Homo sapiens: one gene and its partner. The protein of the gene in region 1 purifies or fractionates together with the protein of each later gene. This does not show direct contact. Each region holds a gene or a part of one and is shown on either strand. Other genes may lie near its edges. The genes, in order: TESPA1 and ITPR3.

Region 1 (3,441 bases):
CAATACTCTCACTACCTTTGTCACCACTGAAATGTACTTGCCTTCTTATAAAGTCACCAGCAAGAGAAGCATTATACAGAATAAGCAGAAATGTTCACAGGATGCTTTGAGCTCATAGTTTAGTGAAAAACATGACAAGAGAATCAGTAATTATTAATAATTTTCATTAAATGCCATAGGGACCAGAAATTAACCTTTCAGAAGATGGCATTACTTTTTTTAACGATGTGTGTTGGCAAAGATGTAGAGAAGGTAGGCCGGGCACGGTGGCTCACGCCTGTAATCCCAGCACTTTGGGAGGCCGAGGCGGGCAGATCACGAGGTCAGGAGATTGAGAGCATCCTGGCTAACACGGTGAAACCCCGTCTCTACTAAAAATACAAAAAAAATTAGCCAGGCGTAGTGGCGGGTCCCTGTAGTCCCAGCTACTCGGGAGGCTTGAGGCAGGAGAATGGCGTGAACCCGGGAGGCGGAGCTTGCAGTGAGCTGTGATCGTGCCACTGCACTCTAGCGTGGGCGACAGAGCGAGACTCCGTCTCAAAAAAAAAAAAAGTAAATAAAAAAAGATGTAGAGAAGGTAAGTCTGGACAGATGTGTCCAACATTGAACAGGGAGAAGGTGGCTGAGGAGAGTAGAAAAAGGAAAAGCAGAATATTGATATTCTAGGCAGAGAGAAAGGTAAGTTCAAAGACAGATGAATGGAATACCACAATATCTTATGGAAACTACACCTTATGCCTAGTGGGAGAAAGGGGATGTGCTGGAGAAAGATCAAAACTGAAAATAAGAAAGATAAATAGAAAGGAAGTTATAAAACAGAGTCTCCTATGTTATTTTAAGTGTTTTGGTTTAGTCTAAGGTAGGAATCCACTGAAAAATTTACAAAGGAAGTGATGTGATTAGATTTGTCTTTTAGAAAGATTATTCTGGTAGAAGTATGGGAGATGGACTGGGTAGGAAGCCGGCAGAGTAAGGAAAATAATTTAAGAATCTACTGCAGAAACCTAGGGAGAAATGTGATGATCAGAAACAAGCTGAAGGCAGTGGGAATAGAGGGGAGGACGAGTGAGATTTTGAGATATTCAGGAGGTAAAATATCTAAGCCAGGACCGATTAGACTTGTGTTTGGGGAAGAAAAATGGAATAAGGAACAGAAAGAAAGATAGGGCATACAGGTTTCCTCTTGGGCAACTAAATGGATGTAAATATCATTTTATTAAGAATGAAGTAAAAATAGGAATAACAATTTGGAAGGCAAATATATTAAAGTATAATTTTCAAAAAGGTAAAATAATGACTCTCATGCAAATGTAGATAAACATGTTCAAAGACTTTACTCAATTCATTAATTACTGAAGGCACCAGCAATATGCTTGACCTGGTCCAAAGACTATTTGAGAAGTCAGTTTATACAGAGAGAGAATTTAACAGATTGCCATATTAGATACAAAACTGGTTAATATCCAATAACAGCATAAACTTTATCTCTGGGATTACTGGTTCCACTGGATGGAAATTATTTGCATCTCTACCCAACATAAATCACTAAGGTAATCTCTGCTCTTGCAAAACTATAAAATAGCAGTGTAAATAGAAAGTCAAGATTAACACTGTACTGAAAGAGTATCTAGTCATCTTGTTTGACTATTTAGAAAAAGCTGATGAGTTCATATCTGAACATGGTGAGTGTAAGGTACTTCTAAAATACTGTGATAAAGAGGTTCATGTCTTCATTGGTTTCTGTTGCTATAATAGAACATTACAAACTAGGTATTTTACTTTATAAAAGAAATTTATTTACTACAGTTCTGGGAGCTGGGAAGTCCAAGGTTGAGGGACCACATCCGGTGAGGGCCTCCTTTCTGCATCATAACATGGCAGAGGATATCACATGGTAAAAAAGCAAGAGCATGCCATCTCAGGTCTCCCTTCCTCTTCTTATATAGCCAAGATTCCCATCATGGGGCCTCACCCTGATGAGTTTATCTAATCCTAATTTTTTCCCTAAGACCTCACCTCTTGATACTATCACGATGGCAATTAAATTCCAACATGAATTTTGGAGGGCAAACTCAAACAACAGTCCATAAGGCAGTTTGGATAAAGGAATCTAGGAATTGAGCTTTTTGGAGTTCAAGGCTTACTTATAATAGGTGACGGCATGAGGAAAGATAGTTCACCCAAGAAAGTATGCAGAATCAGAATCTGAAGTAAAAAAAAAAAAACAACTTAGAAATATTAATATTTAAAGTTTTATCAAGGAACAACGTATATAAAGGAGCAATATTGATTAGAAAAAGGTTGCAAATAGAAACCAAGTGATGTTTCTCTCAAGAAGGAGGGTGTAGTCTTCAGTAACATTTACCATAAAATATCCAATAGGAAGGAAAATGCAAAGATACCATTGTATTTGTGACTAGATAACAATTACTAACCTTGATAAGAATATTTTTATTTGGGTGACAAGGCTTTAAAATATTAATATGAAAAGTGAATAAGAAATGTTGAAAAGAAAGTAGGTAAATAATTTTTTTCTAGGATGGTGAAAGTTTAAGCATACAGTAAATATTTCCCTGGAAGGAAAGAATCAATAGAATGGGAAAGGCTATGGTTTAGGAGGGAAGGAATTGTATGAGTCTCTTCTCACATTGCTGTAAGGACCTAGCTGAGAGTGGGTAAAGAAAAGAGGTTTAATTGGCTCATGGTTCCACAGGCTGTGCAGGAGGCATGGCTAGGGAGACCTCAGGAACTTTCATTCATGGCAGAAGGGGAAGGGGAAGCAAGCACATATTCACATGGTCAGCAGGAGAGAGAGAGAAGGGGGAAGAGCTACACACTTTTAAACAACCAGATCTCATGAGAATTCACTCGCTGTCATGAGAACAGCAAGGGGGAAATCTGCTTCTGTGATCCAATCACCTCCCATGAGGCCCCACCTCCAACATTCAGGATCACAATTCAACATGATATTTGGGTGGGGACACAGAGCCAAACTATATCAGGGATGTTAATGGTGTGAAGTCACTGAGAACTGGGATGAGATGAGATTCAAGGCACTTTTGGAGGGTGTAGCTAGCCATAAAGTAGTGTGACAGATATTTCTCTGAGATTAAAGGGAAAAAAAAATGGAAAAAAATTTTAAGTGTCAATATGGTTATATTGGTCATCTGGAGAGGAAGTCAAGAAAAATTCTGCCTATTTCTTTCTCTCTTTTTCCTGTGGGGTCATTACTAAAAAGTGTGAGTCAGGAAAGGAATGGTAAAAATTTGAGAATTCTACTATGTAGAAAAAACAAGAGAAATACTTATTAATAGAAAATGCATTGCTAGTTGAATAGGTGAATAATGTTAGGCTCATTTCAAGGTGCAGAACATGAATTGATAGTGGTTTAGTGATATTCTCCAACAGTGTTCAGCAATCCATACAAAAAAATAAAGGTAT
Region 2 (3,817 bases), on another chromosome or scaffold:
CGCCAGGATATAGATGTTATGGCCCACTTCACGTGGGCTCACCTCCGAGTTCTCACGCTCTTCCTCCTGCAGGTAGGCCTTCTTGATGACGTCCACCTGGAGGGGCAGTGCCTGTTCCAATGCTCTCTTCCTAGGGCGGTAGGGCCAGCCGGGCCCTCATCCCCATCCCAACACACTCCACCTGGTTCCGCCCGCCTGCCCACCTGCCCAGCCTCACCAGCTCCTGGGGCCGCAGGCTGATGAGGATTCGCTCAGCATTTTCACTGTCATGCCGGCTCTCCATCAGAGCCAGGAGCAGCTTGGAGGCATTGTCCTGGGTGGAGGGGCAGAGGGAGGCAGGCCACAGTCTCAGGACACCATGCCCCTGACAACTTCTCCCTCATTCCTCTCCATAACAGCTCTCCCATCCAACAAAAGGTCAGGTGCCATGACCTTCCCATCCTCCCTCCCCCCGGCTTAATGAGAAGCATCCTGCACAGCCAGCCCACCCATAGGCTTGCCTTCACCCCCGCTGTGGCAAACACTCAGCTACCCAGACAGCAGACACACACATAGCAAGTCCTCAGCTAAACCAGAATATATTTGCATCCAGAGTGAGTGTATGTTCCAGCATGCTTAAACATGCGTATATTACACACACACCCTGCACACACCACACACTTGTGCATCCAGATGATGCCCCATCACACAATGCTAACACCCACATTACACACCACTATGTACACTTGACACACAAGTCACACATACATGCATGCACATCACATGCACACCCAGCACTCACACACCTGCCACTGGGCCCCACCTTGAGCTGCAGCACCAGATCCATGCGGTACTTGCACAGGGGGCTGATGTCATTGAGGATCAGTGCGGTGATGATGTCTATGCCATTGGACTCGTGAGTCACAATGCAAGTCTGGCAGGAGGCAGTGGGGGACACAGGGCCCAGGCCCTCTCAGAATAGTGGCAGCTCCAGAGACCTCAGCCTCTCTCCCTGCCCCAGCTGGCTCCATCTACCCACATGTCCACACTGCCACCCTGGCTGCCACTTATGCCACCAGGACAGCTCACCTGGTTCTCATGGCAGGGGCCCTGGCAGTACTCAGTGAGGGTCTCCAAGGTCTGGATGACGAGGCCCACGTTGTCCTCATTGATGTAGAGCCCCAGCAGCCCCAGGCCGCCCGTGGTGCTGCCGCACATGATGTCCAGGAACTGCAGCGTCTCGCATACCAAGTTGTAGTTGGTTTTGTTGTTCTGACAGCGCAGGAAGTTCTGCGGGGCACAGAAGGGTTGGGCACAGCACAGCTACAGCACGGAGAGGGAGGCTGGCCTGGGAAGCACGATCTTGTGTGCTGCAGGGGTAGGGGAACCACCAGCCACAAAGCAGCAGTGCCCAGGGCAGGGCACACCTGCCATAGAGGGACACCAGCCACACTGCCTAGTCTGCATGCCGGCTGGCCAGCGGGGGAAGGGGCAGGTGTGTGGCGAGGCACTCACCTGCAGGTCCCGGTTGTGGTTCTCACACAGCAGCTGCAGAAAGCGCAGGATGGGCTGCATGATGAGCACGGATGTGCCCATCTCACTGCTCTGCACACGTTCGCTCACCTCGTGCCCCCGGCGCAGGCTGGGGCCCAGCGAGTAGCGGGATGAGGAGCCAGGTATCGAGAAGGAGGCCACGCGGCCTGTGGGCGAGACCTGGTGAGGCTGGAGCTGCCCACCCCCTTGGCCACCCCCCTGCACATCTTATCCTGGGATCCCCGTCACGCCGTGCCTCTGCCTCAGACCCCTGACCTTTGGTGGTGGGGTCGACTGGCTCGCGGTCCTCATGTGGCTGGCTGCCCAGGTCATTCATGTTGACTGCCACCGTGGACTTGGTCTCCTGCTGGGCCCGCTTCATGCGGTCGTGCAGCACCTTGAAGAAGCGCTCTGACTTCTTGTCACTCATCATCAGGTTGTGGAAGGATTTCTGGAGGTGGACAGTGGCCAGGGAACAACCTCAGCACTGGGCCCTGCTCCTACTCAGGGCGTGGGGCAGGCACACCACACTGCTGGGGCCGCTGGGGCTGCAGGGGCCTGGCTGCAGGCCTGGGTGCTGGTGGCTAGCATCCATGGCCACCCATGGGCGGCTCCATGCCCCATATCTGCTCCTGTGTCACGTGGTCCTTTCATCACCCCCGCATACCCCTCTGCCCCAGCCAGGCCTGAGCCCGTCTCCTCACCACCCTGCCCCCATCATGCCCACTCTTCTCACCTCTCAGCCACTGCTCAGGCCTCTCCTCTTTCACACCCTCCTCGGCCTTCAGTGCCCAACTCAAGGCCCACCTCCTCCAAAAAGGGAGGGAGGCAAAGGAGGGCATGTCCAGGCCCCAGGCCCCCCACACCTGGATCTCTGTGTTGCCACCATCCAGCAGGTGGATGGCCAGGCCGATGCTCTCCTGGAAGATCTTCTCGTTCTTGGTGCTGGTGATGAGGTCGCATACCAACTTGGTGGCCCCCTCCTTGTCCAGCCGGCACTGGGTGGCTGCGATTGCCGACCAGTCTGGGTCCAGGCCTGGAGGCGGGACTCGGTTGAGGGAGAGCTGGTGTGACAGGAGAGTGGAAGGGAGGGCCCGGGGGCAGGGGAAGGTGATACTGACCAGTGCCTATGGGGTCGGGAAGGTCCCCCCGCGAGGTGGACTTCCGGTTCTGGAGGTAGTTTTGCAGCAGCATCTTGCGCAGCTGGTTGCCCTGGGGGAGGATGGGAGTGAGGCCCCATTGTGGGTACAGCCCACCACTGACCACTGGCCTGACGGGCTTGACCCTGAGCCCCTGGGTACTCCTGACTGGCCCACCCAGCACTTGCCCCACCAGGGCACTCACCCGGTCCCCGTACTTGGTCTTCTTGAGCAGCATCTGCTGCAGGGTCCGCAGCACCTTGATGCACAGCTTCTCCTCCGACTCCATGAGGTCCTTGGTGTGCTGGATCAGCCTGAGCCGGCCAAGGAGGCAGCTCAGGGCAGCCCCACACTGCCTCCCTCCAGCTACTTCCCCACCCCATCCCAGGCAGGAACACCCCCAGGCCCTCTGACCCAGTGAGCCTGTCTAGTCCCCACCGGGCCCTTCTCTGTCCCCTGCCGCTGCACCCCTGCTGCCCCCATGCCCCAGTGTCTCGCTCACTTGGACAGGAAGCCCCCACTCTCGCAGCGCTGGTAGGCCTCACTGCCCTCCAGGAAGAGCAGCTCAGGCCAGTGCAGGACATCCACCAGCACGGACAGCTCAGCCTGTACCAGGGGCTTCAGCCGCTCCTCCAGGGCTGTGATGATGTCCTGGGGTGGGCAGGGCAGAGTCATTGCCAGGCCCAAGAAATGACCCGGGTGTGACTGCCATTCCTCCGACCCAAACGCCAAACAGCCCCACAGATTGCCCTGCCTCTGTCTGAGGGGCCCACACCCACAGAGACACCCTGAACACAGCGTGATGTCTGTCTGCTCAGAGCCCTGGCTGGGAGCTGCCAAGCCTGGCTTCTCTCCCAGCTCTGTGTGACCTTGGGCAAACCCCTTAGCCTCTCTGAGCCTCAGTCTCCTGCCACGTGGGGAAAATAATCCACCACACCCCCTCTACAGGCCAACGAGACAGCGCACAGAAATGTGCTGCATAGACAGGAGGGCGCTGCAGGAGTGAGGGGTGGTCCCGACCCCCTCATGAGCTCCAACCCCACTAGCAGGCCTCTGGGTTCTCCAGGCTTCCTCTGGAAGGAGGTTCCCCAGTCCCTTGCTGCTGGGTCGGCCCTTAGCAGCCCCAGAGTGTAGAGAAGCCAACCAGCCCCTTCCTGGAAGTGTGG

The links.
Region 2: the proteins of TESPA1 (region 1) and ITPR3 purify together in Homo sapiens (affinity purification with mass spectrometry; 3 studies listed by BioGRID and IntAct, with this or other methods). This does not show direct contact.

Annotation. Positions count from the first base shown.
Region 1 is NC_000012.12:54,950,634-54,954,074, reverse strand, and holds part of TESPA1 (protein TESPA1), read left to right. Parts: intron 1-3,441. UniProt on the Homo sapiens protein: Required for the development and maturation of T-cells, its function being essential for the late stages of thymocyte development.
Region 2 is NC_000006.12:33,683,505-33,687,321, reverse strand, and holds part of ITPR3 (inositol 1,4,5-trisphosphate-gated calcium channel ITPR3), read right to left. Parts: intron 3,303-3,817; coding exon 3,154-3,302; intron 2,966-3,153; coding exon 2,857-2,965; intron 2,725-2,856; coding exon 2,634-2,724; intron 2,549-2,633; coding exon 2,379-2,548; intron 1,964-2,378; coding exon 1,789-1,963; intron 1,680-1,788; coding exon 1,495-1,679; intron 1,270-1,494; coding exon 1,069-1,269; intron 914-1,068; coding exon 803-913; intron 314-802; coding exon 218-313; intron 97-217; coding exon 1-96.